Linked DNA regions of Homo sapiens. The protein of the gene in region 1 purifies or fractionates together with the protein of each later gene. This does not show direct contact. Each region holds a gene or a part of one and is shown on either strand. Other genes may lie near its edges.

What was found.
Region 2: the proteins of MGMT (region 1) and PTPN4 purify together in Homo sapiens (affinity purification with mass spectrometry, with the first as the bait; one study listed by BioGRID). This does not show direct contact.
Region 3: the proteins of MGMT (region 1) and DDX24 purify together in Homo sapiens (affinity purification with mass spectrometry, with the first as the bait; one study listed by BioGRID). This does not show direct contact.
Region 4: the proteins of MGMT (region 1) and DTL purify together in Homo sapiens (affinity purification with western blotting, with the first as the bait; one study listed by BioGRID). This does not show direct contact.
Region 5: the proteins of MGMT (region 1) and PRKCH purify together in Homo sapiens (affinity purification with mass spectrometry, with the first as the bait; one study listed by BioGRID). This does not show direct contact.
Region 6: the proteins of MGMT (region 1) and CDK12 purify together in Homo sapiens (affinity purification with mass spectrometry, with the first as the bait; one study listed by BioGRID). This does not show direct contact.
Region 7: the proteins of MGMT (region 1) and POLD1 purify together in Homo sapiens (affinity purification with western blotting, with the first as the bait; one study listed by BioGRID). This does not show direct contact.

Annotation. Positions count from the first base shown.
Region 1 is NC_000010.11:129,701,241-129,704,740, reverse strand, and holds part of MGMT (methylated-DNA--protein-cysteine methyltransferase), read right to left. Parts: intron 1-3,500. UniProt on the Homo sapiens protein: Involved in the cellular defense against the biological effects of O6-methylguanine (O6-MeG) and O4-methylthymine (O4-MeT) in DNA. Repairs the methylated nucleobase in DNA by stoichiometrically transferring the methyl group to a cysteine residue in the enzyme.
Region 2 is NC_000002.12:119,766,422-119,769,921, reverse strand, and holds part of PTPN4 (tyrosine-protein phosphatase non-receptor type 4), read right to left. Parts: intron 1-3,500. UniProt on the Homo sapiens protein: Phosphatase that plays a role in immunity, learning, synaptic plasticity or cell homeostasis. Regulates neuronal cell homeostasis by protecting neurons against apoptosis.
Region 3 is NC_000014.9:94,071,203-94,074,702, forward strand, and holds part of DDX24 (ATP-dependent RNA helicase DDX24), read right to left. Parts: intron 1-3,500. UniProt on the Homo sapiens protein: ATP-dependent RNA helicase that plays a role in various aspects of RNA metabolism including pre-mRNA splicing and is thereby involved in different biological processes such as cell cycle regulation or innate immunity.
Region 4 is NC_000001.11:212,094,748-212,098,247, reverse strand, and holds part of DTL (denticleless protein homolog), read right to left. Parts: intron 1-3,500. UniProt on the Homo sapiens protein: Substrate-specific adapter of a DCX (DDB1-CUL4-X-box) E3 ubiquitin-protein ligase complex required for cell cycle control, DNA damage response and translesion DNA synthesis.
Region 5 is NC_000014.9:61,324,579-61,328,078, reverse strand, and holds part of PRKCH (protein kinase C eta type), read right to left. Parts: intron 1-3,500. UniProt on the Homo sapiens protein: Calcium-independent, phospholipid- and diacylglycerol (DAG)-dependent serine/threonine-protein kinase that is involved in the regulation of cell differentiation in keratinocytes and pre-B cell receptor, mediates regulation of epithelial tight junction integrity and foam cell formation, and is required for glioblastoma proliferation and apoptosis prevention in MCF-7 cells.
Region 6 is NC_000017.11:39,523,986-39,527,485, reverse strand, and holds part of CDK12 (cyclin-dependent kinase 12), read right to left. Parts: intron 2,813-3,500; coding exon 2,601-2,812; intron 1,623-2,600; coding exon 1,170-1,622; intron 1-1,169. UniProt on the Homo sapiens protein: Cyclin-dependent kinase that phosphorylates the C-terminal domain (CTD) of the large subunit of RNA polymerase II (POLR2A), thereby acting as a key regulator of transcription elongation.
Region 7 is NC_000019.10:50,404,847-50,408,346, reverse strand, and holds part of POLD1 (DNA polymerase delta catalytic subunit), read right to left. Parts: intron 2,166-3,500; coding exon 2,025-2,165; intron 1,941-2,024; coding exon 1,830-1,940; intron 1,365-1,829; coding exon 1,173-1,364; intron 1,021-1,172; coding exon 932-1,020; intron 1-931. UniProt on the Homo sapiens protein: As the catalytic component of the trimeric (Pol-delta3 complex) and tetrameric DNA polymerase delta complexes (Pol-delta4 complex), plays a crucial role in high fidelity genome replication, including in lagging strand synthesis, and repair.

The DNA.
Region 1 (3,500 bases):
TGTTTTTCACGGTGGAGCAGGAGGGTGGTCAGAGGTTTCCAAGCACACAAATCCTGACGGTTTTAAGGAAGGAGCCAGAGAATGAAGGGAAAAAGAAGGAAGCTCACTAGGATGACCGACAGCCACGGATAACTGTGACCAGCAGTCGGACCTGTGAACCAAGCCCAGCAGAGCCGGCTAAATTACGCTGACCCCGTGGACACTGCGGCCAGACAGAACATGCCCCGGTCTTCTCCAAACTGCCGCCTTACCCAGATCCCTGCCCAAGGGAACTCACGCAGACAGTGCCCTCATTCAGCCCAGTACCCTTAATACACAGGCTGAGGTCTCCACAGCCCAAGCCACTGCCTGGAAACCCTTGTCGGTCCCGTCACAAAGAGGCCCTGGGGGAAGCCGGGCTCACTCTGCAGGCAGAGAATGGGCCTGCCGAGCAGGCAACGAAGTGGCCTCTCTCAGAGTTTCCTTAGGGCATGGGAGTGCTGTCTTTTCACTGCCCAATTTCCTTCCCCGTTAGTGAGGTCTGGCCACGGAAAGGAGAACTTCTGCTTGGCTTAAATATTATTCAATTTCAGAGACACACCTTCAGTCATTCAATTCTTGCTCTGCTCTTTGCTAACCGAATAAACAGTGTACTGATGCTATCTAAGAAGAACGATGGAGAAATATGTAATGTACTTTGCTGTCCTGATCCCTGGGGAAGGCGGCCGAACAGAGGGGTGGAAGCCCTGTGCAGTGAGGGTTAGCCCCGGCTCCCTCCTGAGTGATGCAGAGCTGGCTGCTGTCAACCACCACTGCCCAGACAGGAAGAGCAAGCGTGATGGGGCCCATGTGCCCCGACCTTCAACTGAGGAAACAAAACCCCTGATCAAGCCACCTGGGCCTGGCACCTCCTGCAGCAAGAGCTCAGCTGACATCTCCTTCAGGGTTCGAGGGATGGGACAGGAAGGGGCTGAGGCGCTGGGTGAGGGTCTTGTCTCCTGCACTACCTCTGCTGGTGTCATGAGCTGGCGTCCGTGGTGGCACCTGGGGCTGCAGGATTTGGGCTCCGAAGCAAAGGTGCCCCCCCGGCGAGGATGGAGTGGAGCACAGGGGCTGCCGTTTCAGTGGTGGGTGAGTTGTACGGTCCCCGGGTAAGACTGGGATGTGGGATTGGTTGGCGAGGCATGCACCTCAAGGTCAGGGTTAGTCTTCAGGACTAGCGGGGTCTGGCTGGCCATCACACCCCGCAGATGGGGTTTCTCAGGGAAGCGAGGGTACACTGTGGGAGAGGGGGCATTCTACCACGAGAGCTGGGAGGTTCTGTGCCCCCAGCAACTGCTCAGACTCCAGAGTTAGGATTCCTTCATCACCCCTGAGCAAAACGGGGTGCACACCAAGCCTCTGCCCACGCGGGCGTCCTTCTCTCATGCTGCTGAGGGAATTGAAATGTGAGCTGGCTTTCCTAGCAGTTCCCACTCTTAAAGGGATATTTGAAGAATTTTTATAGTAGTAAAATTCATCTTAAATTGATTTTTTATGCTTGTGCTGAAGATCTCAACCTCTGATTTACTCTGTAGTTCTCCTTTTTAACTCTTTCTCTATTGGCATTAGATAACTATTCATGGGTGAAATGTAATTAAACAGCTTTGATTCTGAAGCAATGATTTATGATACTACATTTAAAATGAATGGCATTAAACACACACATAAAACCAGATTTTTAAAGCCATGACACAAATTTCCATTTCTACAGTAAAATGAAATTTATTCTCCTGCCCTGCCCTCTCCTCCTTCCCTGCCGCGCTCGGCCCTGGAAGAAGAGCTGGGGTGATGGCCTCTCTCACGGCGGCGCTTATCACGGGGGAGTTCCTCAAGCTTCCCCACTGGCAAACCCTGAAACACTAACAATTACGGGCTCCGTAGCCCACGCTCATGGAAATGCCACGTCCCAGTCTTCCCCAGGGGCCCTGCAACTCACCCACCACTGAAATGCCGGCCCTGTGGTCCGCCCCATCCTTGCCGGGGGAGCACCTTTGCTCGGAAGCCCAAATCCTGCAGCTCCGGGGGCTGCCACGGATGCCAGCTCATGATGCCAGCAGGAGCCAGTGCAGGAGACAAGACCCTCACCTGGTACCTCAGCCCCTTCCTGTCCCATCCCTCAAACCCTGCAGGAGACAAGACTTTTGCCTGGCACCTCAGCCCCTTCCTATCCCATCCCTTGAACCCAGCAGGAGACAAGACCCTCTCCCAGCATTGGTGGGGAAACACTCAGAGCCCATCAGAGTCGCACCTCCCCTAGGCCTCTCCTAGGACATCACGTGTCACCCACAGAATAATCCCGAGGCAAATATCATGACACTGGTGGCTTTCACTTTCTTTGACTTGGCACGAGAGGATGGTGGCTGGTGGGTGAAGCAGCCCAGCTTTGCTGGGCGTGTGTACATGTGACAACAGGGCGTCGGGCACCTTAACACAGCAAAGCTAGAGCCATGTGGACCTGGCTCAAGGATTTCTTTAAGAAAAACACAACTGTTGGCAATGCCAGGGGTTCCTTAAAATCAAACCGGACAACACTGACCTGCCCTGGGTAGAAGCTCCCGGGGCTGCGGCAGACTGGAAGGCCCCGGTGATATTCTCCCGGAGTTGCCGTCTGTGGGAAGCTGCCCTAACCCATTCGCCTTCCCCGGCTTGGAAAAACAATGTCCCAGTGATGAACTGCCTTGCAGATTTATTTTGATTTAAATCGCCTTCCCTTCAACCCAAACCAGGGCACAGAAAGGTGGTTAGAATGTTCCAGCACAAACTCATATGAGCACAGCAGCTATTCCAGGGAAAAGCGTCCTCCCTACCTGCAAGAAGCTTCCTTTCAAGACACTGATATTATCAAGAACGTGAAGGAAGAGTGGCAGCGGCCCACCTGAGGCACAGCAGAGCTGGGGGTGATGAGAGAAATTTAAGGGAAATGGCCCCTGTTGGACACGGGCTTCCTTTGACTGTGTGGGAATCCCACCTGGCCACAGACAAAGGGTAGAGGAAGCAAGTGCCCCAGGAGTCTTGATCTCAGCCCAGCTCAGCATGAGGAAAGCAGCAAGCAGGAAGAGTGAGTGTTCCTGGTACCACGGCTACCAGGCTCTTCCCAGTTTAGAGTGCTCAACATTCTAAAACTTGACCAGCCAGCTGGGAGATTTGGGTATTCAGATTTTTGGGTGCCTTAAGATTCCACTGGCAGTAGAGAATCACTAAATGTCCATTTCTGAATGAATTCTACTCCCCAGAGACATTAACACACGATGTACTTGGCTTGAATCCTGTTTGATTTAAGAAAATCGGCCAAGAGTCCTTCATAAGTTACTCACATCTGAGGCACCATCGGGCTGACCGTGGGACACTCCAGATGGGGAGTGCTGTGTACCCTCTGCCTCTCCTGTGACCCGAACACCTCCTCTCTCTCTCCATGGACGACGTTTTCATCTTATGGTCTGGGAATGCTACCTGACCACCCTGGAGGGTCACCCAAGGAA
Region 2 (3,500 bases), on another chromosome or scaffold:
AATTTAACTAAAAACAAAATAAACAATGACCCTTGGATTACTCCAAAGACCTACCAAAAGATGGCATTTAAAATGGGAGCAGGCAGCTATCCCAGATACATATCAAAGTTCACTCAGGGCATTTTTTTGATAGTAGGTGTTGCTAATTAGTTTTGCTTACCCAACTTTAAAATAACCATTACAGTTTCCTTCTCTTAATCCCAACAAATGTTAAGGTGTATGTAACCCTTGAAACGCAAAGGTATTTTTCTTGATGCTGTCCCCTATTCTTCCATGACCTGAGATCTTTTACCTCTATGGCAAACTTCTCGAAGAGCTGTCTCATCTATATTCATTGTACACTTGGTTTCCTCAATTTAGTTTATTACACTCTTCCACTATAACTCTTCTGCTAAAGCAACAAACCTCAAACTAGTACACCTCAGAAGAACCTTAGCATTTCAGCAGATTTTCCCAGGCTACCACTTCCTGGCTCCCCACTCCCCCTTTTAAGAATCTATAAGGTCTGAGATGAGACCTGGGGAGTTCATATTTTTCATTAGTATCTCCATAATTCTGATACAGGCAGCTCGCCTGAACACACTGGAAAACCAACTAGCTGAGATTATCAATAACTTTCCAACAGTCAAATTCAAAGCCTCTTGGTCTTCTCTTTTTCTCTCAGCAACATGGCAGCTTCATGAAATTCCTTACTTCACCATCATCTAACACACAACCACACTCCTCTCTCACAACCTTTCTTTCAGTCTTCTTCACTGGCTTCTTGATTTCGGAGAGCCCTTAATCTTTCAGTGATGGTAGTTAGGAGCTCTGTCAGTGTGCCTCTTCCTAACTTTATATATACTTCATAAGCAGTGACAGTCCCACCCATTGCTTCAGCTACCATCTATACAACCTTAAATCCTGCCACTTTGGATTCCACAGATACTCAGAGGCTATGCAGTACAGGAGAGAAAAGATGCTTCAGTATCAGACGAATCTGAATGCAAAATATTTACTCAGCTATTTACACAGTAACATGCCTAAAGACACAGACCTTTTTGAATTTCAGCTCTGTTCTCCTTTTAAAACTGGGAATAGCACCTTTCTAACAAATTTCTGTCCTGATTAAATGAGGGGAAAAAGATTAAATGAGAAGTTCTCTTTCCTACATGGACCTGACAGCAAGCTCTGAGGACCCCATGCCACAGGCCTCAGAGGCGGCAAGCAAGGAGAAAGGAGACAACTAATGCGGGGTCGGAAGACTGGCACATACAAGGGGATTGAGCAAATAAGTAAATACACTGAGGAGATAATAGGAACCAATTTATCACTGCTGGAGAAGAGATTTACAAATACAGAAAGGGAAAAGGCTAGACGAATCCTGAGATGTTAGATTGGAATTGGTTGTATCAGTGTGAACTTATAAAATACCTGTACATAGGCATAGAAACAGATTCAGATGTGTGTATACATATATGTATTTCCTAGCTCTATCCCCCTAAAAGTGATGACATGCCAGCAGAAATGAACACACTGAACACTCGGATCTCAGTTCCTAAATAGCATCTCTACTTAAAAAAGTAAAATAAAATCAGGATTCCTTGGAAAAATAAATGATTTCAGAGCTGGGATAGGAGAGTATTAAGATCATCTGGAACATCTTGTTAGGCCAGAAAGTAAGGAAATACACCAAGGAGGGGGACAGGTCAAGGAGATAGAGGAGCCAACTTAAAGGCCAAATTTGGGACAATTTGACCAACAAAATGAAATTTTAAAATGACAGTAACTAATATAAACCACTAAACAGAAACAAATCCAGGAGTATATATTGATATAAATGAATGAATAAATAAATGTATGGAGAAGAAGGAGAAAATCTTCTTTCAGTAGAATATGAACTAATAAATGTAGGTGACAACTTTCACAGTTGTGGCTGATTCAGGTAGCAATCATCAGACCTGAAGGCTCGTGGTTACAGCCTTCAGCTCTATTGACACACTCCCAGATATCTTCTCACATAAGAATTCCCAATTACAAAAGGAAAAAAACGATAACTTCACAGTAGAGAAACCCAGCAGACTTGAATTTAACAGGTGTTCAAAGTTAAACATCGCTAGTAGCAGGACTATACAGCACGTCTCTTAGTGATGTACTAAGAATATCACGACATTATTTCTATGGCATTCCTGCCAACAATGCACTCGGTCTGCACATGAGGAACCACTGGATGAACTTAAGTTGAGGAAAACATGTAACAGAAAAAAAGGACTCTGCTCATTAAAACTGTCAAGGTCATAAAGGACAGGGAAATATTGAGGAATCATTCCAAACTGATGGAAACTAAAAGATGTGACAATTAAATGCAATGTGTGAACCTGAATTGGATGCTGGACCAAAAAGAAAAGAGAGATACTACTGGGATAGTTGGAAAAATTTGAATGGCATCTAGGTTCGACCTGAAGGTAGTGTTATATCAACGTTGATTTCCTGATTTGGCGGTTATGTAGGAGATTGTCCTGTTTTGCTAAATACACACTAAAATATTTAGTAGTGATAGGGATCATGTCTGCAACTTGCTCTCAAATAATTCAGGAAAAAAGCCAAATGAAATTAGAAATGGTGCATTCCCCTGAAATGGAGAAATAAGGATTAAAATGTAGGACCAGAAATGAGAGATGATGAGGTTGTTTCACTGAAATTTGAGGATCCAATTAGATACAGTAGAAAAAGGGAAAGGGCTAAACACAATTCCAAGGTGACCACTTGGGGCATCTGGAAAAGGCCTTACTGAGCCAAGCACGAGGTGTTCCAGGCTCATCTTGAGCTGTGTATACACACGGTACATAGCTAGTACAATGTTAAAAATTAGTTTAAGGCGATTCAGGAGCTCTTTGTTGTACTTTTCTTGAGATTTCTCATTAGGTTTGAAATTATTTCAAAATGTTAAATGAGAACTCGTGACAACTTCGCTGTCTAGCAAAATACCTGGCTCACTGGAAGTGCTCAATAAAAATAATCTGGCCTTCCCTTGCTAAAGAAGGGAAGCTGCCAAAGAAGAAATCCTAGCATCATCTTCAACTCTTTCCCCCCATGTCCAAATGGACTCTCAGGTCTAGTGAAACTACTCAGTTTTCAGTTCTAATCTCATATCTATATTGCCCTATTTCTGGTTCCTATCATCCCTCCCCTGGACCACTGCAACAGCATCTGGTCTCTCTGCTCCATTTCTAACCTCATCCTTGCATTATCCTTGTAACTTTGCATCATTATCTAGAAGTCAGGAGTTACCTTTCAAAACCTGCATCTAATCTTATCATCCCTTATTTAAATACCTCTAAATTGTTCCTGAATGTTAATGCTGATTTCCCAAGAGGCAGACTAAATGCATGTTTAGGGCACCAGTAACGCAAGGGCACCAAAGAGATATTTCACACACACACACACACACACACACAGACACACACACACACACACACACACACACACACACGCGCGCACATGCGCATACACCAGTGAAA
Region 3 (3,500 bases), on another chromosome or scaffold:
AATAGACAATTATCAAAAGAAGATACACAAATGGCCAACAAACATGAAAAAATGCTCAACATCACTAATGATCAGGGAAATGCAAAGCAAAACCACAATGTGATACCACCTTACTCCTGCAAGAATGGCCATAATCAAAAAATCAAAAAACAGTAGATGTTGGCAGCCAGGCACGGTTGCTCATGCCTGTAATCCCAGCACTTCCGGAGGTTGAGGTGGGCAGATCACCTGAGGTCAGGAGTTCAAGACCAGCCTGGCCAACATGGTGAAACCCCATGTCTACTAAAAATACAAAAATTAGTCGGGCATGGTGGCAGGCACCTGTAATCCCAGCTACTTAAGGAGGCTGAAGCAGGAGAATCACTTGAACCTGGGAAGCGGAGGTTGCAGTGAGCCAAGATTGTGCCACTGCACCCCAGCCTGGGCAACAGAGTGAGCCTTTGACTTAAAAAAAGAAAAAAAGCCGGGCACAGTGGCTCACACCTGTAATCCCAGCACTTTGGGAGGCCGAGATGGGCGGATCACCCGAGGTCGGGAGTTTGAGACCAGCCTGACTAACATGGAGAAACCACGTCTCTACTAAAAATACAAAATTAGCTGGGTATGGTGGCGCATGCCTGTAATCCCAGCTACTCGGGAGGCTGAGGCAGGAGAATCACTTGAACCCGGGAGGCAGAGGTTGCAGTGAGCCGAGATTGCGCCATTGCACTCCAGCCTGGGCAACAAGAGCGAAACTCCATCTCAAAAAAAAAACAATGTTGGCATGGATGTGGTGAACAAGGAACACTTCTATGTCCTGGTGGGAAAGCAAACTAGTATAGCCACTATGGAAAACAGCGTGGAGATTCCTTAAAGAACTAAAAGTAGAACTACCATTTGATCAAGCAATCCCACTACTGGGTATCTACCCAGAGGAAAAGAAGTCATTATACAAAAAAGATACTTTCACACATAATTTTATAGCAGCACAATTCACAACTGCAAAATCATGGAACCAACCCAAATGCCCATCAATCAACGAGTAGATAAAGAAACTGTGGTATATACAGGATGGAATACTATGCAGCCATAAAAAGGAATGGATTAACAGCATTTGCAGTGACCTGGATGAGACTGGAGACTATTATTCTAAGTGAGGTAACTCAGGAATGGAAAACCAAACATCGTATGTTATCACTGATATGCAGGACTAAGTTATGAGGATGCAAAAGCATAAGAATGATACAATGGACTCCGGGTACTTGGGGGGAAGAATGAAAGAGGGGCAAGGGATGAAATACTACAAATATGGTGTAGCGTATATTGCTCGGGTGATAGGTGCACCAAAATCTCACAAATCACCACTAAACTGGCACAGTGGCTCACGCCTGTAATCCCAACACTTTGGGAGGCCGAGGTGGGCAGATTACTTGAGTTCAGGAGTTCAAGACCAACCTGGCCAACGTGGTGAAACCCTGTCTCTACTAAAAATGCAAAAAGTAGCCGGGCATGGTGGCACATGCCTGTAGTTCAGCTACTTGGGAGGCTGAGGAAGGAGGATGGCTTGATCCCAGAAGGTGGAGATTGCAGTGAGCTGAGATAGCACTACTGCACTCCAGCCAGGGTGACAAAGCAAGACTCCGTCTCAAAAAACAAACAAACAAAAAAACTTGCTCATGTAACCAAATACCACTTGTACACCAATAACTTATGGAAAAATTTAAAAAAATTAAAAATAAACATCTAAACATAGAAAAGGAAAAAAAAATTTAAAATAAAAAACAGAAATGTGAAAAAAATAAATAAATCAGGTATGCTATCAGTCAAAAAATAAATAAGTAAACCCACCATTATCAATAATCATTAAACGTAAATAATCTCAGTAACTCAATTAATTTTCTTTTCTTTTTTTTTTTTTTTTTGAGATAGAGTCTCACTCTGTCACCCAGGATGGAGTGCAGTGGCACAATCTCAGCTCACTGCAACCTCCGCCCCCTGGGTTCAAGCAATTCTTGTGGCTCAGCCCCCCAAGCAGCTGGGACTACAGGCACATGCCACCACGCCTGGCTATTTTTTTGTATTTTTAGTAGAGACAGTTTCGCCATGTTGGCCAGGCTGGTTTTGAACTCCTGGCCTCAAGTGATCCACATGCCTTGGCCTCCCAAAGTGCTGGGATTACAGATGTGAGCCACCATGCCTGGCTTCAATAATTCAACTCAAAGACACGAACTGTCTGATTAAACAGCAAGACCCATTTATATGCTGCCTATAAGAAATTCACATTAAATATAAATAAGGGAAAGTAATAGTATTGAAAAACACATACCATGCTAACCCCTTAATCAATAAAGCTGGACTGGCTGCATCAATACCAAAGGACATTTTAGAACAAAAAAAAATTACTAAGGATAAAGGGGGCCATTTCATAACGATAACAAGCCAATTCATTTAGAGGATATAATAATAATCTAATATTTTAATCCATAAAACATGTATTCACATAAACTGATTGTCAGAATACATGAAACAAAAACTAATAGAACTGCAAGTAGAAAACAGTCACTCAAGAAAAAAATAAGTGGCCGGGTGTGGCGGCTCATGCTTGTAATCCCAGAACTTTGGGAGGCCGAGGCGAGCAGATCACGAGGTCAGGAAATTGAGACCATCCTGGTTAACACGGTGAAACCCTGTCTCTACTAAAAATACAAAAAATTAGCCGGGCATGGTGGTGGGCACCTGTAGTCCCAGCTACCTGGGACGCTGGGGCAGGAGAATGGTGTGAACCCAGGAGGCAGAGCTTGCAGTGAGCTGAGATCGCACCACTGCACTCCAGCCTGGGCAACAGACCGAGACTCCATCTCAAAAAAAAAAAAAAAGAAAAAAATAAGTAACACAAATATCTCTAATCTATTAAACAAAGTAAATTTGTAGTCAAAAATCTTCCTACAAAGACAAGTGCAGGCTCAGATGAATTCTACCAAAAATTTAAGTTGGGTATAAAATGTCAATCCTGTATAAATTCTTTCAGAAAACTGAACAGAATACTTCAGAAATCATTCTGAAGCTACATTACTGATTCCAACACCAAAACATTACAAGAAAACTACAACTATCCCATGAACATAAGTTCAAAAATTCTCAACAAAATTTTAGCAAATCAAATCCAACAAAATATAATTAGAATAGTATATTGTGACCAAGTTCAGTTTATCCCAGGAATGTAAGTCTAATTTCATAATTGAAAATCAATGTCATTCACCACATTGGCAGACTAAAAATGAAAAACCACCTATTTCAATATATGCAGTAAAAAAGCATTTGAAAAATATCCAACATCCAACCCTGATAAAACCTCTCAGCAAATGAGAAATCAAAGAGAACTTCCACAACGTGATAAAAAGCACCTACAAAAAACCTACAGCTAAGATCAGACTTAATGGTGAAAGACTAAATGTTTTCCCCAGAAGATCAAACACAAAGCAATAATGCCCACTTTACCACTACAATTCAAAATTCTGCTA
Region 4 (3,500 bases), on another chromosome or scaffold:
GAGGTCCTGAGTCTGTCCATGTAATAACTTCAGTGCTAGTATAACTAGCATTCAAGACAACCAGTACACTAAATAAAACTACAACCAAGTACTCTCACACAGTCCACTTCACTCCTTTCCTACCACCTCCATTAGAGCAGGTGCTAGTATCCATGGCATACAGACCTGAAGACAGATCACATCACAGGACTCTTAGCAGACACTCTCCAGTACCAGCCTAGAACCCAGTAGCTCTGCTGGGTGGCTCGACCCAGAAGAGCAATAACAATCACTGCAGTCCAGCTCTCAGAAAGCCCCACCCCTAGGGAAGGGGGAGAGCACCACACCAAGGGATCACTCTGTGGGACAAAAGAATTTAAACAGCACACATTGAGTCCCAGATCTTTCTTCTGACATAGTCCACCCAAACGAGAAGGAACCAGAAAAACAATTCAGGTAATATGACAAAACAAGGTTCTATAACCACCCCTAAAAGATTATACTAGCTTACCAGCAATGGATCCAAACCAATAATAAATCTTTGAATTGCCAGAAAAGAATTTAGAAGGTCAATTATTAAGCTACTCAAGGAAGCACCAGAGAAAGATGAAAACCAACTTAAATTTAAAAATAAAACAAAACAGGATGTAGACGAAAAAAATCTCCAGAGAAATAGATATCATAAATAAAAAACAATCATGACTTCTGGAAATGAAAGACACATTTAGAGAAATGCAAAATACACTGGAAAGTTTTAACAATAGAACCAAACAAGTAGAAGAAAGAATTTTGGAGCTCAAAGACAAGGCTCTTGAATTAACCCAATTCAACAAAGACAAAGGCAAAAGAATAAAAACTTCTCTGGCCTTGCTCGAGATCTAGACATCCAAATACAAGAAGCTCAAAGAACACCCAGGAAATTCATCACAAAAAGATCATCACCTAGACACACAGTCATCAGGCTATCTAAAGTCAAGATGAAGGAAAAAATCTTAAGAGCTGGGAGGCAAAAGCATCAGGTAACCTGTAAAGGAAAAACCTATCAGATTAACAGCAGATACTCTACAAGCTAGAGGGGATAAAGGTCTTATCTTTAGCCTTATTAAATAATTATTAGCTGACAAAATAATTATCAGCCAAGAATTTTGTATCCAGTGAAACTAAGCTTCATAAATGAAGAAAAGATGAAAGTCTTTTTCAAACGCTGAGAGAATTTGCCACTACCAAGCCAGCATAGTTTACAAAAACTGCTAAAAGGAGTTCTAAATCTTAGAGCAAAACCTTGAAATACACAAAAATAGAATCTCATCTCATAGTGGGGGACTTCAATACAGTAAGTCAACATAGAAACAATGGACTTATACCCTAGAACAAATGGACTTAACAGGTATTTACAGAACATTCTACCCAACAACTGCAGAATATACATTCTATTCATCAGAACATTCATGGAACATTCTCCAAGATAGAGACCATATGATAGGCCACAAAACAAGTCTCAATAAATTTAAGAAAATCAAAATTATATCAAGTACTCTCTCAGACCATAGTGGAATAAAATTGGAAGTCAACTCCAAAGGGAATTCTTAGAACCATGCAACATTAAATAATCCGCTCCTGAATGATCTTTGGGTCAATAATGAAATCAAAATCAAGCTGGAAATTAAAAAAATTCTTTGAACTGAATGAAAAAAGTGACACAACCTAACAAAACCTCTAAGATACAGCAAAAGCAGTGCTAAGAGGAAAGTTCACAGCATTAAGTGCCTACATCAAAAAGTCTGAAAGAGCACAAATTGACAATCTAAGGTCACACCTCAAGAACTAGAGAAATAAGAACAAACCAAACCCAAACCCAGGAGGAGGAAAGATATAACAAAGACCAGAGTAGAACTTAATAAAAATGAAACAACAACAACAAAATACAAAAGATAAATGAAACAAAAAGCTGGTTCTTTGAAAAGATAAACAAAATTGATAGCCCATTAGTGAGATTAACCAAGAAAAGAAGAGAGAAGATCCAAATAAGTTCAATTAGAAATGAAACAGGAAATATTAACAACGAATACCACAGAAATACAAAAGATCATTCAAGGCTACTATGAACACATTTGTGCTCACAAACTAGAAAACCTAGAGGAGATGGATAAATTCCTGGAAATATACAACCTCCTAGATTAAACCAGGAAGAAATAAGAACTCTGAACAGACCAATAACAAGCACTTAGATTGAAATGGTAATAAAAAAATTGCCAAGAAGAAAAAGTCCAGGACCAGATGGATTCACTGCTGAATTCTATCAGACATTCAAAGAAGAACTGGTACCAATCTTACTGAAACCATTCCAAAAGAGAAAGAGGGAATACTCCCTAAATCATCCTATGAAGCCAGTATCACTCTAATACCAAAACCAGGAAAGGACATGACAAAAAAGAAAACTACAGACCAATATCCCTGATGAACATAGATGCAAAAATCCTCAACAAAATACTAGCTAACCAAATCCAACAGTATATCAAAAAGATAATCTACCATGATCAAATGGATTTCAAACCAGGGATGCAGGGAAAGTTTAATATACACAAGTCAATACATGTGATACACCATATAAACAGAATTAAAAACAAAAATCAGGCCGGGTGCGGTGGCTCATGCCTGTAATCCCAGCACTTTGGGAGGCCGAGGAGGGCAGATCACTTGAGGTCAGGAGTTTGAGACCAGCCTGGCCAACATGGTGAAACCCCATCTAAAAATACAAAAATTAGCCAGATGTGGTATCTCAGCTACTTGGGAGGCTGAGGCAGGAGAATCCCTTGAACCTGGGTGGTGGAGGTTGCAGTGAGCTGAGATGGTACCACTGCACCCCAGCCTGGGCAACAAGAGCGAAACTCTAAGAGAAAAACAAACGAAAACACATGATCACTTCAATAGAAGCAGAAAAAACGTCTGACAAAATCCAGCATCCCTTTATGATGAAAACACTCAGCAAAATCAGCATAGAAGGAACATACTTGAAGGTAATAAAAGCCATCCATGACAAACCCACAGCCAACGTTATACTGAACGGGGAAAAGTTGAAAGCATTCCCCATGAGAACTGGAAAAAGACAAGGATGCCCACTTTCACCACTTCTATTCAACATAGTAGTGGAAGCCCTAGCCAGCCACAGTCAGTCAGAAAAGAGAAATTAAAAGGCATCCAAATTGGTAAAGAGGAAGTCAACCTGTCACTGTTAGTAAATGATATGATTGTATACCTAGAAAACCCTAAAAACTCATCCAAAAAGCTCCTAGATCTGATAAATGAATTCTGTTAGGTTTCAGGATACAAAATCAATGTACATAAATCAGTAGTACTGCTATACAGCAACAGCAAACAAGCTGCAAATCAAATCAACAACTCAACCCCTTTTACAATAGCTGCAAAACCTAGGAATATACCTAACTAAGGAAGTAAAAGACCTCTACAAGGAAAACTACAAAACACTGCTAAAAGAAATCAGATGACACAAACAAATGGAA
Region 5 (3,500 bases), on another chromosome or scaffold:
CGGGGTTTCACCTTGTTAGCCAGGATGGTCTCGATCTCCTGACCTCATGATCCACCCGCCTCGGCCTCCCAAAGTGCTGGGATTACAGGCGTGAGCCACCGCGCCCGGCCCAGGCCCAGTCTTTCAAGCACATATTGGTATGTCATTGATTGATTTAACAGAGGAATACTGTTCATCCAGTAACTCCTCAACTATTTTCATTTCTTTCTTTTAGAAAGATGGAAAGATGCTCCCAAAGTACTTACACTTTACTTGTCCCCCAATCACATAAAATTTCATTTAACAAATATTTAATGTTTACTACATATGAGACATTGTCCCAGGGTTAGGACAGTGAATAAGAGAGGTGGGTCCCTGCTCTCAAGCCATTTGTAATCTAAAGGAGGAAAGTATAATAAGCAAATTCATTAACAAAATGATCTCAGAGAGCAATGAGTGCAACGAAAGACAACAAGATAATAATATGACCAGGAAAATGCTCTCCAAAGGGGAAAATATCTGAGCCACAACCTGTTTGTGATGAGAAGCAGCCGGTCCCACTGTAGCAAAATTCTTCTTACAATGAAAATGAAGACGCTACATAGCCAATACAATTCACATACACTGAAATAAAACTCCCTCAAGATTCTAAAATATATTTTTCCTCTTAAACACTGTGGGTTGATCAGTCAGTGTTAGACATTCCTTCCAATTGGCTCAGAAAAAAATCAATCATGAGAATAAACAACGGCACTACAAAGTACAAAAGAGAATGAACCACTAGATAGAAAATCTGGAAGAATTTTGGTGGTATAAATTCAGACACCTGGATCCAGGAAGGAAGGGAAAAGATAATCCATGATTGTCCAGTAGTAACATGGCTGCTTCACCTGACAGGACTGATTACAAAACAGGTACCTCACTGAGAAATTGAGAGAAAGAGGCCCTCCAGGGCTGCAGAGAACACAATGTCTTCGGGAGGGCTGAACCAGGAAAACAGCCTGGGATCCTGCCAAGCCAGTCCTTCCTTCCTGAGGGGGCGCCAAGGTCTTTCCATGACGCAGCCTCCAGCTCCTCCTGCCTCCCCATGTCCCCAGCACTCTGCATTAAGCATTAGATGCTGGTCCCCATTTAGAAGGTCAGCAAATCAAGAGCAAGTACACGAAAGAAGAAAATAGAGTTTAAACAGAGGCAATTCTTCAGATTTTGGAAGCCAGAGAAATTATGCAAAATAAACATGTTCTAGAAGCAGCAGAAAAAAAACTGACAGTGATAATTTAGAAAATGAGACCATGTCCAAAAATCAGAAACTAATTTGTTTTATTGTGATTTCATTTTTTCTACGCTCCCATTCTCATAAATATTTTCTGCACTAAAGAGGAAATGTAGTTTTCAAGAGTCAGACTTGGCTCAGCTGAAATTCTGTCATTTACTAGCATCTTACTTAACACCTTCAGTAAAATATGGATAAGCGCTGATTGGTTTTTTTCCCCACAGCTTTATTCAGGTATAATTGTCATATAGTAACATGCACATACTTAAAGTGAACTATTTAATAAGCTTTGACATATGTATATAACTGTGAAATCATTGCCACAATCAGAATAACACAAATATTCATCTCCCCTAAAAGTTTCTGCCTCCTTTGTAATCCACCTCCCTTACCTCCACTCTCCATTTTTAGGCACCCACTGATCTGCTTCCTGTCACTATAGACTCCTTTTCATTTCTAGAATTTTGCATAAATGAAACCGTACTTTTTTGTCTAGTTTCTTTCACTCAGCATAATTATTCTGAGATTCATTCCTGTTGTTACATGTGTAATAGTTCATCTTTTTTATTGCTGAGTAATATTCCATTGTATGGATAAACCACAATTGTTTAAACATTCATCTGTTGACATTTGAGTTGTTTCCACTTTGGGGGTTATTACAAATAAAGATGCTATGAACACTCGTGGACAAGCTTTTGTATGAATGATTTCATTTCTTTTAGTAAATACTAAACAGTAAGTTATATAGTAGGCATATGTTTGATAGTTTAAGAAACTGCCAAACTATTTTCCAACATGATTTACCATTTTACATTCCTCACCATAGCATATGAGAGTTCCAGGTGCTCCACTTCCTCACCAACACTTGGTATGGTCAGTCTTATTAATTTTAACCTTTCTAGTGGGAACATACTGAGATCTCATTTTGGTTTTAATTTGCATTTCCTTAATGACTCATGATTTTGAGCATCTTTTAATGTGCTATTTGGCATGAAGGTGAGTGCCTATTGAAATATTTGACAAGTTACAAGTCATTTGTTGGATTTTAAATTAGGTATTTTTCTCATTATTATTGTGCTGTTAGAGTTCTTTTATATATTCATGTTACACATCTTTCATTTACGTATTGCAGTTATTTTCCCCCATTTGTGGCTTGGGTTTTTATTTTCTTAAACATTCTCTGGGAAGCAATAGTTTTTCATTTTGATAAAGTCCAACTTACTGATTTTTTTATAGTTGGTGCCTTTTGTACGCTATCTAAAAATTTTTTGCTGAACCCAAGGTCACTACAATTTTGTTTTCTTATAGAAGTTTCACAGTTAAACTCTTACATTTAGGTCTATAATCCATTTTGAATTAATGTCTTTGTAGGATGTGAGGTAAGTGTCAAGGCTCATATTACTGTATGTGGCTATCCAGTTGTTCAAGCACCATTAGTTGAAAAGACTATCATTTCCCCCACTGAGTTGCCTTCTTGGCAGCTTTATCAGAAATCAGTGGGTCATATATGTGTGGATCTATTCCTAGACTCTCTTCTATTCATTCCACTGATCTGTATGACTCTCTTTATTCCAATATCACATTATCTTGATTACGGTCATGTTACAGTTAGCCTTGAAATCAGATACTCTAAGTCCCCCAACTTGTTCTTTTTCAAAACTATTCTTAGACTGGTCTCAGTACTTTACATTTCCATATAAATTTTAAAGTCAGTCTGTCAATTTCTACAACAAACTTAGATTTTGACTGAGATTATACTGAACCTATTGAATACTTTGGGAAGAATTGAGATCTTAACCATATTGAATCCTCTCATCCATAACCTACAGCTAAGAGCTTCTCTGGATCTAGCAAAAACTAAGTCACTAGGTTTTGGGGGTTTTTTGAACCTGCAACTTCAATAGTTTTTTTTTAAGTCAGTAATCTGTAGTTCCACTTGCAACCATAAATTTATTATGGAGTAAATTCAATTATTCCACATTTAACTCTCTGAATAAACTACATGTCAATTTAAAATACTAAAGATAAATAAGTATTTCTTTAATCCTGAACTTCAAAAGCACCTTTGGGCCAGATGCAGTGGCTCACACCTGTAATCCCAGCACTTTGGGAGGTTGAAGTGGGAGGATGGCTTGAGGCCACAAGTTCAAGACCAGCCTGGTCAACAAGGTAGCAAGACCCCATCTCTATTTTTTTAAAGCATTTTTGAACCTATAAAGGATACTTTTTTAAAAAAGCATGCATTCCA
Region 6 (3,500 bases), on another chromosome or scaffold:
AATAGTAAAACAGCAGCCCAATTAATAGGCTGTCACCTTCTCTGGTTTATACAGTCTGCCCTCTGGTGGAAGTGCTAATTAACAGTGAAATGGCCAAATAGAGATAGCAGGGGAGAAACAAGAACAAGTGAGCCACTGTAGAGGCATCAGCTGAATAATCCAGGGGTGACTGCAATAATTAGTTACGGCATCTCTACACTTTCCTCTGAAAAGTAAATCCAACAACTTCTGGCCATAGGCCAGGCCTTAAAACATATACTTTCTGCACCACCTCATATGAAATGTGAATGTAGGACCCTAAAGTTGAAGATTAGTATATCTCTTCAGCCCTCGAGCCTCTTCTTATTCCCCAATTCATGGGGTCTTCATGGACAGTGAGAATTTCCGAGGAGTTAAAAACATTTTTACATAAGTAAAGATTTTGCAAATACAGTGTGAATCAGAATTAAAGAACTTAAACTGCTTTTCCCTCTAATAAATTGCACGCTATGGTCATGTGAGATTAACGTATAACTTATCCCCATTTTCCTTTTTTTTCTTTATAATACACGCACTTCCTGATCTGGGGTCCATTCAATTGCTTCTATCAGAAACAGATTTAAAGGAATTGTTCTTATACACTATTATTTTTGGGAAAAGAAATGTATAGTGTTAATTATCTACTTAGAAATATTCCCAAATTATTCTTCAGGAAATTAACAATGATATTTTATTAGGGTTTTCTTGATTGTATCTTCCAGGAAAGACTGGCATTCAGCATCCACTCCACTAGAGGTAAAGAAGTATAGTCTGATAATGGTTTGTTTGGAAGTCAGATTTCCAAGTGCTAGGACTAGTTGGCCACCACACACAGTTCAAGATGTGTGGTTCAAGATGCATCACTAGCTATGGTTGTGGTTTCCTTGGTTAGAACACAGGGGCTTTACTTACCTATCTCCTAGGAGGTGGAAAAACAATCAGTATAGGAAAGGTGCTTTGGGAAGCTTTGAGACTTAAATAAAAGAAGCCAAGCAAGAAATACATTACTTGGTGCTATGTTCTCCTGTAGACTAGGTTACAGAATAACTGAAACCAAGGCCATTGATGTGGGGGAAAAAAAATGTTAAGAGATTTTTAAGAGGGTATCAACAGCACCTGAGCTCAATGAGATTCATGACCGGTCTGTTTACCTGCTGCCTCCTCCTGTGGCATTGTGGGAGTTCTTCGGGGCCCCTGTGGCCCACTGTTCTTGTCACTGTTGTTTTCCTCCAGACTGCCTGCTGGCTCTTGGGTTTTCATCAGCTGACTCAAGAGAACTGCCAATATATTCTGCATGTCAGCTGGTGTGCTTGAAGCTTCAAGGGTCGTCTGTTCTGCTGAAGGCAGGATCACTGGGGCAGAGGGTGCTTCCTTCAAAGACTCCTCTGGGGCCATGGTCTCTGAGTCCTGCTGCTGGGAAGTAGCTTCCGTCAGGGCACTGATGGATTGGTTCAGGGCTTCCAGCTGCTGCTGCATCTCTGGGTTGGAGTGGATGTTAAGCAGCTGTGCCATTTGAGGGATGCTCAGGTCGGTTTGGCTCTGCAGCAGGTTTAATAACACTGCCAATTCACTTTGATTCAGCTGTTGTGTGATGTCAGCAAGGCCTGTTGAAAGACAGTGAAGCCAATATAAGACGATGAGATAGGCCAAGGGCCCTTTGCCTTCTTCAACTGGCAACAGCAACTTACAATATCCAAAAAATGAAATTTCATTTTAAATGTCTCATTTTTTCATGCCTCAAAATGTCATGACACATTTTGTTACTCTTTATGCTTTCGCTTAAGAAATACAGGCACTAATAACTAAAACATCTCTGGATTGTGCATAAAAGTGACTTCACTTTATCTGTATTTTTCAAGTTCTGTGATTTTCAATCCTTTATTATACATCAGAATTACTAAGAGAGATTTAAAAATCTCTCCTATTCAGATGCCTCAGGACCCATCCCTAGAGATAGGCAATCGTATAGGCATATTTGTTTTTAAAGCTTCCAGGATGATTCTAATATACAGCCAGTATTAAAAGCCACTGCTATAAGTGAAGAGGGGAAAGTGAACCAGAAAAAGAGTATCTTTTGTCCCGAAGAATTGGTCATAACACAGGAGAACTACTTTGTTATAACAGTTCAATATGACATAGTTTCAGATACATTTAGATCAAAATAACAGTCTATAGAACAACATTTAGCAATTGTAATTTAACACTACTAGATTCTATGAAGGTCTTATCAAATCTAATATAAACAAGGCTCCAAATTATGTGTTTCATAAAGTCATGGGTGAACTAACCTTAAATTAAATTTGGCTTACCTAATTCACTGATTTATGCCACACATCTAATTGAGATACAGTGTTCCGTACATATTTCAGGAAAGGAAAATGATCTATTGTAGACTTTCTGGACCATATGTACGAAACTTGGTTAATCTCCTTCTCACCATAATGAGGACATTAACCTCTTTCCTAATGGTTCACTGGACCAAAAACTAAAAAACAGACACACACACAAACTCCTTACACTTGACCTTCAAAACCTGCCAAATACGCTTAGCAAAAGCACAAAGGCCCCATTCTGGCACTGACCTATTGCATCCCCAGCCCCAGACTCCACCTTGCCAGGAGCAGGCTGAGGTGGTGCTGGGCTGCTGTTCTTCACAGGCTCAGTACTTGTCCCTGAGGTAGTTTCTTTTCGAGAAGTTTTGGATGGAGGTGGCTCTTCGACTACAACACCACTTTGTCGCTGACGTCGCCGTTTCTTACTCCACAACTCATGGCAATCCTGCCAGTGGGGGAGGCTGGAAAAAGACAAAGCAAAGGGGAAATATGTAAGGGAATGCAGCAGTGAATGAATGGAGGAGCAAAGGATTAAAATGGGAAGGCAAAGACTGTGGGAAATGTAAAGAATAAGGAAAACAAAAATAACCAAAAAAGTTAGTAAAAGTAGGTAACAGCAGTGTAAAATAAATCATGGCAGATGGTAGTCTGAGGAAATAAAAGTACGAAAGTTACATAGTGAGAAAGGAGGATCTTGCTAATACTAGGTACAGACCAGCTATATAAATTCCCATATAAATACTGTCTTTCCTTGGCATAACAACAAAAAAGGAGAACAGTATTGGTCAAGTTTCAGTAGGGAATAAAGACGAGGACAGTAATGGCTGGCTTGTTAATGTATACAGAAGGTCGAGGAAAGGCGGTGACTTAAACCATGGAACCATGTATCATGATCAAAACATCTCTGTGCAAAATCAACTTATGTGTAATTTGGTTTGTGAGGACCAAAGACTAGTTCTTTCCCCTTTCTGCCCACAGAATTTCTATGACTGGATATCAACTTGCTCATCTGTGGAGTTCAGCACTACGTATAACTTAGTCCAGAATCTCTCATACAATCAGACCAAGTAGGTCAAATCTTACTATAAATCTCTCTATAATAGGAGTTCCCAAATTTCAGTAAAACCCTTATATGTTTCAAGTCATATT
Region 7 (3,500 bases), on another chromosome or scaffold:
TTTATTTTTTTTGAGACGGAGTCTCGCTTTGTCACCCAGGCTGGAGTGCAGTGGCGCAATCTCAGCTCACTGCAACCTCCACCTCCCGGGTTCAAGCGATTCTTCTGCCTCAGCCTCCCGAGTAGCTGGCACTGCAGGCGCCCGCCACCATGCCCAGCTAATTTCTGTATTTTTAGTAGAGACGGGGTTTCACCGTGTTAGCCAGGATGGTCCCAATCTCCTGAACTTGTGATCCGCCTGCCTTGACCTCCCAAAGTGCTGGGATTGATTACAGGGGTGAGCCACCGTGCCTGGCCTATTAATTTATTTTAGGGCCGGGGTGTTGCTCTGTCGCCCAGGCTGGAGGGCAGTGGCGCAATCATCGCTCACTGCAGCCTCCACCTCCTGGGCTCATCATCCTCCCAGCTCAGCCTCCCAAGTAGCTGGGATTACAGGCATGCACCACCACGCCTGGCTAATTTTTAAAAATTTTTTCGGCCGGGCACGGTGGCTCACGCCTATAATCCCAGCACTTTGGGAGGCCGAGGCAGGTGGATCACGAGGTCAGATCGAGACCATCCTGGCTAACACGGTGAAACCCCGTCCCTACTAAAAATGCAAAAAAAAAAAAAAAAAAAAAAATTAGCCAGGCGTGGTGGTGGGCGCCTGTAGTCCCAGCTGCTGTGGAGACTGAGGTAGGAGAATGGCGTGAACCCGGGAGGCAAAGCTTGCAGTGAGCTGAGATTGCGCCACTGCACTCCAGCCTGGGTGACAGAGCGAGACTCTGTCTCAAAAAAATAAAAATAAAAATAAATAAAAATAAAAAAATTTTGTGGAGCAGGGGCCTCGCTATGTTGCCCTGGCTGGTCTCAAACTCCTGAGCTCAAGTGATCCTCCCACCTCAGCCTCCCAGAGATTACAGGTAAAAACTGCACCCAGCCTGGGGCCTCACCCTTTGAGGGGCTCGATGACAGTGGCTCCCGTGTAGTCCTCGCCGCCCTCTGACTTCACCACGGGCATCAGCAGCCCCTCGTGCATGGCCTGGGAGGGGAGAAGGTGGGAAATGGAGTGGGTATAGGTGGGGCCGTGCGGATTGGGAGTGGGGAGAAAAAGTGCATCCAGGATGCCATTGCCTGGAGGGGGCCACAGACGTGCCTGGTGGGGGGTGGCGAGGACAAGTCTCGGCTACTGACCTGCCGCAACAGCTGGGATACGACCTTGACCTGCTGGCCACGACTGAGCAGGTAGCTGAGGGGCACGCCAGTGACCCTCGCCATCTCCACGGCGTTCACCAGCACCATGAGCCGCTCCAGCAGCCGCAGTGGCAGGTAGGCATCCTTCAGGCAGTACACAGCCAGGCGGCGGCGGGTCTGGTCGTTCCCATTCTGGGGATGGGCACGGATGGGGTCAGGGACCAGGGGTTGGGGGTGGGAGGTGGAGCAGGAGAAGGAAGTGGGGGTCAGGGTGAGGTAGCCTGGGGAGGGCCTGGGAGGTGAGGCGGGCAGGAGGGCCCTCCAAGTCGTCAGGGTCTGGGTGGGGATGGAGGTAGGGTTGGGGGCCAGGGAGTCCACAGGGCCAGAGGGAGGAGGAGGGAGCAGCCTGAAGGCCACCGTGGACCTGTGGTCAGGCCAGGAAAGCAGAGACAAGGTCATAGTGACAGAGGTCACAGGAGTGGAGAGAAATCTGGGGTCAGAGGTCAGGAAAAAGTGGGCGTCAGGTAAGGTCACAGGTCATAACAGCAGGTCAAAGAGTGAGGTCAGACGTGGGGGCGTGAAGTTGAGGTCAGAGGCCGGGGAAGGGTGAGGTGGAGGTCAGAGGTTGGGGTGAGAGGTCAGGGAGGCAGCAGGCACCTGCAGGTCGGTGATGATGCTGTGCTGCACGTCCTCCTTCTGCTCGCCCAGGAAGTGGAAGCTCACGGCATTGAGCGTGTAGGAGCGGAGCTTGTACTCCCGCAGCAGCACCTAGGTGGGTGGGTGGGCTGGTGGGCTGCGGGCCTGGGCAGTGGCCTTCCAAGGACAGGGACACACCCCACCTCCCGCCCATACCTGCAGCATGTCCATCTGCACGCGGCCCACCATGCTGACAACCTTGGTGTCCCGCCGGCCCGTCTGCTTGGACTGGAATGAAGAGTCCCGGATGTTGGAGCAAAGGCCGGCCACACGGCCCAGGAAAGGGAATGTTTGTACCTGAGGAGGAGAGGCAGGGTGTGCAGCAGGCTGCGGGTCCCCGTCACATAAGCCTGAAGAACGGAGATTGAGACCAACCACAACATCCTTATAACAACCCTAGGGGGTCGAGAGCAACCCTGGGGGCAGAAAGACGGTCTGGGGCTGGGTGTGGGTGGCTGGAGACTGGGGAGGGAGTCCGGAGTAAGGACTAAGCTGCAGCCAAGGCTGGGATAGCGAGAGTCAGGGGCCCTGATGGACTGGGGGCCAAGGATGGAGCCCAGTGTCTGCGGGCTGTACCTAGGCAGGAAACAGGAAGAGATTTGGGGACACTGTGAGCAGGCGGCCAGGTGGGGGCAGAGGCAGGAGGCGGCGTGGAGCTGGGCTGAGATGGATGCTGAGGGCGCTGGAGGGCGCCTGGCTGCAGGAGGCCTTGCAGGGTGCTGGGGCCCAGCCTGGGGGAGACTGAGGCCAGAAGAAGCCTGAGCTGGGGACAGGGCAGAGGGTGAGGGACACCCAGGGAAGGGGAGGAGGAGTACCATGGCCCGGGCATCAGCGCCACGCTGTGGAATATACACTGGGGGTCCTAAGAGTTTGTTCTGTATTTTAGAATGGATTTTTTCTTGTTTTCTCTTTAATAGAGGCAGGGTCTTGCTATGTTGCCCTGGCTGGTCTTGAACTCCTGGGCTCCATCGATCCTCTCGCCTCATCCTCCCAAAGTGCTGGGATTAGAGGCGTGAGCCACCACACCCAGCCTGTTTTGTTTTTCCATTACCAAGCTGGCCAGACATAGAGAAAAGCAGGAAAATAAGGCAATATATCTCATTAAGGGCTGAACCATGTTCTCCCAAAAGATGTTGAAGCCCTAACCCCCGGCACCTCAGAATGTAACCTCATTTGGAAATATGTCTTCGCAGGGGGTCAAGTGAAGATGAGGTCACTGGGGTGGGCCCTCACCTCACGACGGTGTCACTACACAAAGAGGACATGTGGGCTAGGTGCACTGGCTCACACCTGTAATCCCAGCACTTTGAGAGGCTGAGGTGGGCAGATCACCTGAGGTGAGGATGGAGACCAGCCTGGCCAACATGATGAAACCTAGTCTCTGCTAAAAAAAACAAAAACAAAAACAAAAATAGGCCAGGCGCGGTGGCTCACGCCTGTAATCCCAGCACTTTGGGAGGCCGAAGTGGGCAGATCACCTGAGATTGGGAGTTCGAGACCAGCCTGGCCAACATGGAGAAACCCTGTCTACTAAAAATACAAAATTAGTCGGGCATGGAAGCGGGTGCCTATAATCCCAGCTACTTGGGAGGCTGAGGCAGGAGAATCACTTCTACACCCCAGCGCCCCCTG